Regions from separate parts of the Homo sapiens genome. Here all the other regions are reported to be linked to region 1. The links are microRNA targets in miRTarBase. Many come from high-throughput screens and were not tested one by one. Region 1 holds a microRNA gene; each other region holds the end of a gene's coding sequence.
The links. Region 1 holds the annotated microRNA hsa-miR-650 (AGGAGGCAGCGCUCUCAGGAC, at 2,699-2,719, opposite strand). A microRNA usually pairs through its seed, bases 2 to 8, with sites in the 3' UTR of a target mRNA and lowers its output. Matches are read on the target gene's strand: a 7mer-m8 pairs with bases 2 to 8, a 7mer-A1 pairs with bases 2 to 7 and ends in A, and an 8mer does both.

Region 2: miRTarBase lists E2F1 as a target of hsa-miR-650. Seed matches in the 3' UTR shown: 7mer-m8 at 1,242-1,248.
Region 3: miRTarBase lists CRISPLD2 as a target of hsa-miR-650. Seed matches in the 3' UTR shown: 7mer-m8 at 1,302-1,308.

Annotation. Positions count from the first base shown.
Region 1 is chr22:22,821,362-22,825,509 of GRCh38, reverse strand. It overlaps MIR650 (microRNA 650), which reads right to left and starts at 2,734; the gene lies at 2,639-2,734. It overlaps LOC105372948 (a long non-coding RNA gene), which reads left to right. Exons shown (of 4, transcript XR_938047.2): 4 at 3,874-4,148. It also overlaps IGL and IGLV2-8.
Region 2 is chr20:33,673,028-33,677,027 of GRCh38, reverse strand. E2F1 (E2F transcription factor 1) reads left to right here. Exons shown (of 7, transcript NM_005225.3): 7 at 49-1,551. The coding sequence ends at 296. It overlaps NECAB3 (N-terminal EF-hand calcium binding protein 3), which reads left to right and starts at 2,600. Exons shown (of 12, transcript NM_031232.4): 1 at 2,600-2,804. The coding sequence starts at 2,676. RefSeq lists enhancers at 1,573-2,073, 2,744-3,291, 3,292-3,839 and a silencer at 2,260-2,889.
Region 3 is chr16:84,905,924-84,909,923 of GRCh38, reverse strand. It overlaps CRISPLD2 (cysteine rich secretory protein LCCL domain containing 2), which reads right to left. Exons shown (of 15, transcript NM_031476.4): 15 at 416-3,336. The coding sequence ends at 3,282. Among named protein-coding and RNA genes, the nearest start is that of LINC02176, 20 kb to the left of the region's middle.

The DNA.
Region 1 (4,148 bases):
GGCCACTATAGGAGGTAAAATACAGTATCCTTCAAATAGAGATCTCCACCTAGAACATATGCGGTGGAATTCTCAAACTTCAAATTACCCTACAAATCAGGGACCGTTAAACCACATCCTGTGGGCCATCCCTGTCCTGCCACCTGTTTTTCCATGGCCCCAGAGCTGAGAGTGGTTTTTATAGGTTTAAATGGTTACACTATAAATGGTGCTAAAAATACCTACAGAATATCCTCAAAGTTGACTCTTGGGAACCACAGACCAAAATCCTTCTTATCTGGACATTTAAGAAAATGTTTACCAAATTATAAAAATAAATAGCACTGAAGTATTAGAGAAAATGCTCAACTTCAAGCAGAACAGGAGAAATCAAAACTAAAAAAAGATAACATTTTTAAATCTGCTAGGTTGAAAAACATTTAAACTTTCCCCAGTGTACTCTGTTCGAATATTTATGGCTGACATTGCGAATTTGTAGATAACCCCTCTAGAGGAGAATCTGAGGACAGTGAGTGAAAATTACAAGCACACATCCTTTTGACTCAGCAATTTGACTTCTAGAAATTTATTCTATGGTCATGTCTACATATAAAATCAAAGGAGTCTACATAAGGATGTTCGCTGCAGTGTTATTTATAAGATCAAAATAGTGATAATAACCATTAAAAGTGAGTTGGCTAAAATTCTACCATAGAATACTCTACAACCTTTGAATGAATGGGGCAGTGCTCTATGCCTAGGATGTCTCAGCAAAGAATAAAAAATAGTGCATGCATGGGATGGTCTTTTACATGGAGGACAAGGACAGGGGCCTTCACTCCACTCTCTCCTTTATCCTTGAGATGATCTACATCTGCCAAAGAGGTTAGGAACTGCGGAAGTCTCCCAGCCAGAGGGAGGCTTCCACAGCCAGAGGGAGGCTTCCACAGCCAGAGGGAGGCTTCCACAGTTCCTAACCTCTTTGGCAGATGTAGCCTGAATGCAGCCTGGCCTGACAGCTTGGCTGCAACCTCGTGATTAACCAGGAGCGAGAATGACCAAACTAAGCTACTCCCAATTCTAGGTGCATCCAAGTCACAAGGTCACAGACATGTGTTCTCTTAGTGTGCTAAGTTTTGTGAGTGTTTTTTTATGCATCAATAGACAATACACTTTGGTTTTTGAAATAAATTTTAGTGTTTATATTTCAGGTACACAACATGATGTTATATAGTAGTTACTTTGTAAATATATATAGTAAACTAGTTACTTTGTTTTAAATATAATCTGTATAATCGAAGTTTAAGGAGCCTAAACTATATATGATAATAGCTGTATTTAACAACTGGCTCAGAAAATTTAAATATTGGACCCAGCTAATGTCCGAATGTGTTCTAAATCAATTCTCACCATTAGATTATTAGGGATTCCAGGTACAAAAGTATTGACAGCCATGAAAATTAGAAATGCTCGATGTCCATGAGGAAGGGAGGTGGACTCAGGTTAACTCTTTCCTGTGGAGCCATTTTGGAATCCCCCATCCTATGGGAAGACCGTCCACTTGTGAGGAGTTTCCAGGACAGGGCCTCAGCGATGTGAGGGGAGGAGAATTCTGCGAGAGCACTGAGCCTGTCACTCAAAATCTCCCCAGCTCAGCAACCTGAGGAATTTCGGCAAAGAGCAGGAGCAATAAAAAGAAAAACAGCAGCATCCTCTTTGTTCTTAATCCCTCAAAAACATCTTCAAGTCTTCTTAAAGTGGTCACTTTAAGCTAGGAGGGCCATCTTCATTAGAGCGTGGTGGACACAGAGTGGAACAAGATGCAATTCCTGGAAACTGGAAGCCATCCCCCTGATGGCTTCTGTCCAGATTGATCTGCATAGTGTGACAGATGGGGGATGCATTTAGAATGAGGATGTTCCTGAAAACAGGAGGGACTGCACCAAGCAGTAAACTCCTTGTCCCTACGTCCCTGCATTGAAGAGCTAGGAATAGTTGCACGTTAAGGGACCAGAGCACACAAGCAAAAGGAAGTTGCCACAGTCCTGAACGAGAAATCACGAGCAGGTTTCCTTTTAGACCTCATGGTGGGAAAGGAGAGGAGCTGAGAGAGGAGAATTGTCAAGGCCATCCTGCAGGAAACCCTTATACAGCGTGAGGAAGCATCTGCAGAGCAAGAAGGGGGCCTGAGAGCCCAGGGCAGGTTTTGATCTTACTTCCTCATTGACTTAAAACACTGTGGAAATTGTTGCTGCCTGCATATGAGCTGCAGTAATAATCAGCCTCATCCTCAGCCTGGAGCCCAGAGACGGTCAGGGAGGCCGTGTTGCCAGACTTGGAGCCAGAGAAGCGATCAGGGACCCCTGAGGGCCGCTTACTGACCTCATAAATCATGAGTTTGGGGGCTTTGCCTGGGTGCTGTTGGTACCAGGAGACATAGTTATAACCACCAACGTCACTGCTGGTTCCAGTGCAGGAGATGGTGACTGACTGTCCAGGAGACCCGGACGCGGAGGGAGGCTGAGTCAGGGCAGACTGGGCCCAGGACCCTGGAAAGGGAGAAACACAGTCTAGTGAGTCAGTGCTGGGCCCAGGTGAGCCTGAGGAGCAGGAGACCAAGGATCAGCCCAGAGGTCCCTGTGGCCCCTTCCCTGGAGGCATCACCTGTGCCCTGAGTGAGGAGGGTGAGGAGGAGCAGAGCCCAGGCCATGGTGGTGACGTCCTGAGAGCGCTGCCTCCTGAGACCCCAGCACTGGGCCTGCCCCCAGCCCTGTCTTATCCCCTCTGCCTCAGAGAAGGGCGGGACCTCCATGCAAATCTGCATCCTGAGCTCCTCTTCTCACCCCACCCTCACTTGGGCCTGGGCTTAGAGACTTCTGCTTCCCTTGACAGCGGGGCTCAGCCAAGGAGACTAAAGTCCCTGATTGTCTATTCTGATGACAGGAAGTTGATTTCTTTGCACGTGATTTGCTCAGGAGAGAAAAATCTGCTGAAGCCCCTCACCTGAGTGAGCTCTTGGCCCTCAGTGTCTCTGCTGTGTGGTGCCTGTGTCTCTGTGACCCTCCAGGCCTGGGCACACCTCGAAGTAACCTCTTTCTGGCACTCATTGCCAGGTTCTCTCTATTCTCAGGAAATGGGGCTGCCCAACCCCACTGGAAGCCTCTGCTGGGTGGCGTTGGTCCCTGGTCTGCCCAGCGGCAGCCTCGTCCCATCCCCACTCCCATGCTTTGTCCTGAAGCATCTGCACCATCAAATCCCTGGAGCACATCAGCCACCCCAGGCAGTGCACCCACATCCACACGGGCACATGTGGGTGGGACCCTGTGAAGGGAACAAGGAGCACCAACCAGGGCCACAGTCCTGAGCCTGAGTCCGCTGCTCCCAATCCTGCCCCTCCCACTCATGAGCAGGTGACTTGTCCTTCCCAGCCTCTGGTTCTCAGCCTGATAAATGGAGACCACAGAGTCCGTTCTGCATACAGGTGATCCATGGGGATATGAGCCAGCAGGGAAAAGGGAAAGTTTGCTAACAGGCCTTTCTATGTGCACCAGAGTGATGTTATCTTGAAAGGTTTATTGAAAGATTTACTTCCATTTTACTGTGATTTATGTGTCAGGTCACAGAGATGCACGTTTCCGGCTTTCTTACTTTCCCCCATCTGAGCACATCCTCAGGACAACCTAAAGCTGACCTCTCTCAACCCTTCGACACTGAAGACACACAGACATTCAATAAAGACATTTTTAGTTTTTCCTCCAAATGCGTTTAATCTTTCTTCATCTTTCCCCATTGCCTATGATGCAACTCTTTTAATGTTCCATATTAAAATAACTATTAAGGGATTCAGGTTCTATTTAAATATTGTAACATACACTATCCTGTCTTCCCATCTAGATTGAGCTATAAAACCATGACAAGTGCATGGAGCAGCTATTTGAGCACCAGGAAAGGAAATGGTACGCAGCAGTTTGGGATGGCCCCAGCAGATGAAATACAACAGAGTCAGTGTGAGACTGCTGGATTTCCTCACTGTCCCCTGGCTGGGACTCCAGACAGCCCCAAACCTGAAGGGGCACAAACCTGAAAACAAAAAGAAGTCCAGAAAGCCCTCTTGTTCAGGATCGAACTTGGGAAAGAAAACTTATTTGGCTCAAAGTGAAGGCTCAGTC
Region 2 (4,000 bases), not on the chromosome of region 1:
CCTCCCTGCTGGGGCATCCCCGGCCTGTGATGCTCCCCGTCTCCCCAGAACCGCTGTTGTCCCGGATGGGCAGCCTGCGGGCTCCCGTGGACGAGGACCGCCTGTCCCCGCTGGTGGCGGCCGACTCGCTCCTGGAGCATGTGCGGGAGGACTTCTCCGGCCTCCTCCCTGAGGAGTTCATCAGCCTTTCCCCACCCCACGAGGCCCTCGACTACCACTTCGGCCTCGAGGAGGGCGAGGGCATCAGAGACCTCTTCGACTGTGACTTTGGGGACCTCACCCCCCTGGATTTCTGACAGGGCTTGGAGGGACCAGGGTTTCCAGAGATGCTCACCTTGTCTCTGCAGCCCTGGAGCCCCCTGTCCCTGGCCGTCCTCCCAGCCTGTTTGGAAACATTTAATTTATACCCCTCTCCTCTGTCTCCAGAAGCTTCTAGCTCTGGGGTCTGGCTACCGCTAGGAGGCTGAGCAAGCCAGGAAGGGAAGGAGTCTGTGTGGTGTGTATGTGCATGCAGCCTACACCCACACGTGTGTACCGGGGGTGAATGTGTGTGAGCATGTGTGTGTGCATGTACCGGGGAATGAAGGTGAACATACACCTCTGTGTGTGCACTGCAGACACGCCCCAGTGTGTCCACATGTGTGTGCATGAGTCCATGTGTGCGCGTGGGGGGGCTCTAACTGCACTTTCGGCCCTTTTGCTCTGGGGGTCCCACAAGGCCCAGGGCAGTGCCTGCTCCCAGAATCTGGTGCTCTGACCAGGCCAGGTGGGGAGGCTTTGGCTGGCTGGGCGTGTAGGACGGTGAGAGCACTTCTGTCTTAAAGGTTTTTTCTGATTGAAGCTTTAATGGAGCGTTATTTATTTATCGAGGCCTCTTTGGTGAGCCTGGGGAATCAGCAAAGGGGAGGAGGGGTGTGGGGTTGATACCCCAACTCCCTCTACCCTTGAGCAAGGGCAGGGGTCCCTGAGCTGTTCTTCTGCCCCATACTGAAGGAACTGAGGCCTGGGTGATTTATTTATTGGGAAAGTGAGGGAGGGAGACAGACTGACTGACAGCCATGGGTGGTCAGATGGTGGGGTGGGCCCTCTCCAGGGGGCCAGTTCAGGGCCCCAGCTGCCCCCCAGGATGGATATGAGATGGGAGAGGTGAGTGGGGGACCTTCACTGATGTGGGCAGGAGGGGTGGTGAAGGCCTCCCCCAGCCCAGACCCTGTGGTCCCTCCTGCAGTGTCTGAAGCGCCTGCCTCCCCACTGCTCTGCCCCACCCTCCAATCTGCACTTTGATTTGCTTCCTAACAGCTCTGTTCCCTCCTGCTTTGGTTTTAATAAATATTTTGATGACGTTTGGGCCGGGTTTTGGGACTCTGTTGGGAACATTTCGGGGCGGGAGAGGCCAAGGTTGCTGGGGAAATGCCCATTCTCCACTTCCCTTCTCCCTGTCCGTGCCCGATTTGATTTGAGCCTCATAACTCGAAGAAAGGTCAGCTTCCTCGCTGTTTTGGTCCTAACTCAAAAGCAGATCCAGTAAAGGTTTTTGTTGTAGAAAGCCAAGAATGCTATTCAGTGCTGCCCGAAGTGCAGAGTAATGAGTGGCCTCTCCTTTCCCCAGCCCCAGAGGCCACTCTGCTCAGTTTGCTGTCTTCCTTCCAGACGTTTCTGGACATTAGTAAACATGTAACAAATACAGTGGGCTGGTTCTGTGTCAGGTATTTAACAGTTCTGGGGACACGGGTGTTACCTCCTTTCATGGTGCTCTCAGGGTCTGAAAGAGGAGATCTGCATAAATGAGAAAATCGGGAAAGGCGTTCTGGAATGGGTGGTGCTTAAGCTGAGCGCTGTAAAATAAGTAGGAGTTAACCAGAGGAAGAAAACACCAAGCAGAGGACACGATGGGCAAAGGCCTTGGGCAGGAGGGAGCGGGATAGAGGACCGGAGAGAAAGCAGTGTGGCTGCGGTCCTGAGGTGAGGGTCAGAGTGGTGCTCCTGGAGTGGGGCGTTCAGTCTTAAGCTTTATTCAGGGGCCAAGGAGTCACTGGAGACCGAAGTGACACCTCCTCTTTCGCATCTTAAAAGCTCCCCCCGGCTGCTGTGTGGAGAACGGGTTGAAGGGAGGGCCAGAGTCACGGAGGGGAGGGGAAAGGGCTGCGCTTAGTGCCAGAGAGGGCGGGCGTCGGGATGCCTGGGATTCGGCCGCACGGACCTGTGGGCTTCCTCTGCGCCAGCCCCCGTTGTAAGCACTTGACATTGAATGAGTCCCAACAATTGCATAGGGTGTCTGCCAGTACCATTTTTGTAGATGAGGATACAGACGCCCCAAAAGGTGAAGTCCTGGTGGGTTTTACCCACTTGTGTCACCCTGACCTCGGCACTGGCTTGGTCATCCTGTCCCTCTGGGTAGGCCCGCAGCCCCTAGGTTCTGCTCCCGACAGGCCGTCGCGGGACCGGAGCCCTCGGGCGCCTCCCCCTCCGCCGTGGCCGCGGAAGCGCGGAGGCCCGCGGCGCTGGAGTTGGACCTTGAGGCGAGGGAACCCGGCGTCCGCGGGGGCGGGGCGGGGGCGGGGCCTGAGCCCGCGCGTCGGCGCCGGCGCCAAGGGGCGGCCTCTAGCCACACCGAGTCCGCCGCGGCGTCCAGGGTCGGCAGCAACCGCAGCCGAGCCCGAGCGGGTGGCGGCGCCATGGCGTGCGCGGGGCTGCTCACCGTGTGCCTGCTCCGGCCGCCCGCGCCCCAGCCCCAGCCCCAGACCCCGCGGCACCCCCAGCTCGCGCCCGACCCGGGGCCCGCCGGACACACGCTCTTCCAGGACGTGAGTGGGCGCGGGCTCTGCTCGCGGTGTCTCCCTACCCGAGTCTCTGTTAGTCTCACCCTCCGGGGTTGTTCGGGCCCCGCCGCTGTTTCTGGGTCTCTTCCCCTCTCTCTGGCCCTGCTGTTTTCTCTTGACCTTTCTGCCCTTGTGTGACCTGTTCTGTCTCTCCATGTCTCCTCTTGTCCCTGCTCCAGTGTCACTGCCCCTGCTGCCTCCCACCCCTCAGCCCACCCCATTTGTGTGTCTGGTGTTGGCGGGGGGCTGGCGACAATCACAGCAGCGGTCACCCCACTCTGTGGCAGCTCCAGGCTGGGCTGACTGGGGAAGGGGAGCCTGGAAACGCAAGGGCCCCTCACTCCTGACTCTAGTGCCGCCCCCAGAGTTCTTCAGGCCCCACTCCAGGGCAGCAGAGTCCTACAGTTGGTAAGGGCTGCTCAGAGTCACCCTCCCATGGGGCCATGGGTGGCCCTGCGGCCACCATGGGCACCAGCCACGGCCCTGAGCCCTTTCTCCACCGTTCACCGCTGTGCTCGGCTCTGTCCTGGCCCCCTCATGCCCCAACTCCAGAGGGAGGCAAAGCTGTCTCCCACCCCCTCCCCACTGCCCCTAGTGACTCAGCACCTTGACCACAGCCCTGGCTGGAAGGGACCTGACCCTCCTTCTTCCCAAGTAGGAAAACCAAGGCCTGAGGGGATATGTCTCAGGTCAGTCATGGAGGCAGGGATACAATAGGGTGACCCCAGATGTCCCCATTCCCAGCTTAGCACCCCTGCCCACTCCCAAGATCTCCATCTACCCTACCTGGGCCTCCCTGGCTTGCTGCGTGCCCCTCAGCCAGTGGCAGACCTTCTCTGAGTTAGGCTAGAGGTTAGAGTCTTTCCTGAGCCCCACTGACCCTGACAAAACAGGACCCTGGAGGGGGCTGGCGTTCAGGACCTGGAGTTCATGGGGGCTCTCGGCCCAGGCTTGGCCCACCCCTGCTTGCCAGGCCTGCCAGTCTCCCCTTTGCTGGGCTGCTTTGGGTGACCTGGGAGCAGGTCACTAAGAGAGACGGGGACCTGTCTTGACTCTGCTCCTCTCTGCCTCTGTTGCTCTTCATCTCCACTTCTCCATAAATGAAATCTGCCGAACTTGCCTTCTGCCACCCCCACTCCCCCTTGGACGTGTGTGTGTACACACACGCCTGCCGAAGGTCC
Region 3 (4,000 bases), not on the chromosome of region 1:
GGCAGCCACCTGCAAACCAAAGAGAGGCCGCAGAGGAAACCAACGCTGCTGGCACCCTGATCTTAGACTTCCAGCCTCCAGAACTGTGAGGAAGATATCTCTGTGGGTTAAGTCACCCAGTCTATGGTATTTTGTTAGGGCAGCCGGAGCTTAGACAGAATGGCCTTGAGCCCACCACCACTCAGAGTGTGATCTGGGGACTGGCAGCATTCGCATCACCAGGATCTTGGGAGAAATTCACAGTCCCTGGCCCCAACCCAGCCTTGCTGAGCCCGAAATTGCATTTTGGCAAGCTCCTCCCTCCTTCCCGCGGATGGGGTGGAGGTCTCCACCAGGCCCTGGCTGTCAGCATCTCTGTGTATATGAGACATCCTAGCAGAAGCAGCCAACACAAAACAGTCCAGAGCCTGAAAGATGGTTTTCAATGTTTTATTTCACAAATTGTTCAGATTTGTTCATAAAAGATATGTTACAGGAACATTTTAGAAATCAAACCAGTTCTACTGAAACAATTGCAACAACGTGGCCCCTGTTCATGCAAAGCACAAAAAACATTTACAATAAAACTTTGTACACAGGAAGTAGCAAAATACATCATTTTTCATAGAAAAAAGCACACACATAAACTGCGGGCTGAGTGAGCCTACAGACAATATGAGAAACCAGCACACGCTTTGGAATACGGTAGGGCAAAACTCCTAAGGAAGCCGAAAATGTTCATCCTGTGGGCAGGAGAGCCAGGAACGCCGTTGGCTTGGTACAAGATCTTTTTAAACACAGGGTAAGTGTTGGTAGCACGAGGGGCCTCTATTCCACACACAGGAGAGGTGGTGCTAGGGACAGGGCTTATCATTTATAGTCTTGTTTCCATTTTCTGAAGACAAATATTCCAGTTTCAAAATGTTTGTGGGGATGATAAAGACAGCCAGGTCCATGGCCGGGCGCAGTGGCTCATGCCTGTAATCCCAGCACTTCGGGAGGCCAAGGTGGGTGGATCACCTGAGGTAAGGAGTTCGAGACCAGCCTGGCCAACATAATGAAACCCCATCTCTACTAAAAATACAAAAATTAGCCGGGCATGGTAGCTCACGCCTGTAGTCCCAGGTACTTGGGAGGCTGATGCATGAGAATTGCTTGAACCCGGGAGGCGGCAGTTGCAATGAGCAGAGATCACGCCACTGCACTCTACCTTGGGCAACAGAGTGAAACTTGGTCTCGGGAAAAAAAAAAAAAAAAAAAAAAAGACAGCCAGGTCCTGCTCTGGGCAAGGACTTTCTATCCTGCTAGGAAGGCCCAGTGAAGGAGGCATTAAGGAACCCGGGGACTTTATTTTTAAATGATGGGGTCAACTCACACTGGAAGTTTCAAGTCTCCCTTGAGTGGGATGCTTTGGAAGCGAGCCCACTGGGATCGTCCTGGACCCTTCACTAATTCTGCAAACCCCACAGGGCGATCTAATTTATCTTGCAGACACAGACACAGCCACAAAAGTCCAGCAGCAGAGCACCCAGCACCCAGAAGTTTCCCAGATGTTTGGTGGTAACTGGACTCACGACCTGACAGGCTGACCGAATTCTTCCTCTCCGACATTTGGGGCTGAGGAGTCAGTACCTATGAATTACGACTAGACTACAATGCACAAAGCACGTAGTCCTGTGAATTTTAGCTCAGTCAAGCTAAGAGTTGAACTGCTTTTTACCAACTCCTTAAAGGGGTGGGTTTTTGTTTTGTTTTAAACCTATTTACCTTCAGATTCTGCATTTATTAGAAAGGCAATCAAAGAAAGAAGGCATCACCTAGGTGCCCAGGTAGAATTTCTTGTCCAGTCTACAGTATCTTAGTTTTTGACTTTCTGCTAGTTCTTTCACCTAAGAAATATTTTGAATCAAATTTGAAACTAGCATTCACCAAAGTGATCTATTGGCTGGCCCGGTGGTAGAGAGTGGAATTTTCACCTTCTGCAAAAAAATGCTATTTACAAAAGGGTACTTCATTTCACTGTGGGCTTTTGGTCTGGGCTCATGAAGCACTTTTATAGAGTGATGGCAGCCAGGGTGTACTACACTCCTTGGCGCCTCGGGAACGTTTGGCAAGAGTCGTTTCACGAAAACAGGAAAAGAGATCCTTCTAGTGTATTCCCATCTCTCGCTGTCATGAGGCCACAGACGGTTTCATAACCACAAACTGAGCTGCTAACCTCGGTGAGGAATGTACCAAAGACTCCATTCCTCCCACGGCTGAAAAAATAGGTCATCGGGTGCGTGGGGAATCTGCACATTTAATTGTCATTTTTTAAAAGCAGCAAAGAGCAGGCCTTCTTTGGTTGTTCTCAGACATCTCGTCTCAGTGGAACCTTACGAGACCAGGAGTTAAGACTTGGGCTTCAAACAGGTTCGCTTGCAAAGAAAAGTCCTGGGTGTGAACCAGGACACGTAAACCAGTCCGAGGCAGGGTGGGAGCCACAACGGGTAGGGGGTAAAGAAAGGGTCCCGATCCTTAGTCCTCAATGGGACCAAAGGTCACGGCAGAAAACAGGTGGGCCATGAAGACGAAGGGCCTGACAAAGACAAGATACATCTCTGAAGTGACTGCTGAACTCTACATAAACCAGCACTGCTGTGTATAGAGCCATCCTGAATGCGGCCATTGAAGGGGGCCTGTGGCGGGCCGCCAGCAAGGACACGTGCCAGGGCGGAGCCGGGGTCTCTCATACCCGCAGCCCTCTTACTCTAGCCCATTTGTCTGTCTGACCAGCAAACATTAAAACCATTTTCCTCTATTGGTAGGGACGGACTGTGTTTTTTATTTTTAAATAACTACCTTCTACTTCATTCCTGAAACTCATTGGCGCTTGCTCAAAAGGCCTCTTCCGACGCCGTGAATGCTTCACAATTGTGAGCTTCAAATGGTTTGTTCTTTTGGCAGGGAGGTTGAAATCAACTTCCTCCACCAACAGAAGAACACATAGCAAGGAACATTTTGGGCAACTGTCCCCTTTAAGAGACAGCTCAGATCTCTAAAGGAGAGAGGACGTCCAGATGGAGACCCCCAGGCCCCAGCAGGATCAGGCACCAGGGAGTCCGGCTGAGCACCTTGGGATGCTGTTGCTTCAGTGAGGGGATGAGATGTCACCTCACCCACAGGCCACAAAGTGATGGACACTGAACATCAGTCAAAGGAAGTTTCCTGACTCTCCATATACCCCGCAATGACAAAATAAAAATAAAAGCAAAACCCCGAAGCCCTCCTGAAGACGCCCCTTCTCCCCTGGTGCTGGAAATTCACTGCCTGACAGCAAAGATCCGGAAGGCCTTTCCATCCCGAGGAGTCCCCAGGCTGAAAAAAAGAAGAAAGAGGGCCCGTTACTGAGAGATCTGGAGGGCCTCCTGCAGGGACTCTGGGTGGGCAGGGAGACCTGGGTGCCTCCTGCTTGCTCCCGTAGTGGAAGAGCCATGGCCAAGGGACACTTCCTTGAAGCCGCCAGACACAGAGCCTGCCTTGAGTTGAGAACAGGTGGCAAATCCCATTTTCTCTGCACATGAGCATCCATCTGATTCTAGGTCAAGGCTGTTAAGTTATTTCCTTTTAACTCAGGGATCTGCTGGACCCAGTCTGTCTGGATTGGACTCACCCTCCGAGAATTCTGCTTGGTTTCACTACCACCTGTCAACCCGAACAGTGGTGTCTTGGGAGAGATGAACAGGTGCTATCTCAGCACTACTGCATATGCCAGGTGCTTCACCGCCTTCCACCTTCCTCCTGAGGGAGCTGTTATCGCTCGTTCACAGGGGAGGAAACGGAGACACCAGGAAATAAAGAGATTTACCCAGGGTCCCATGGCTAGTAAAAACTGCCCTCTCACAAGAGGAGTTAAATCCTTCAGCTAATCAAAGATGGTTTTTAAAAAAGAGCTTTAGGCCAGGCGCGGTGGCTCATGCCTGTAACCTCAGCACTTTGGGAGTGAGGCGGGTGGACCACCTGAGGTCAGGAGTTCGAGACC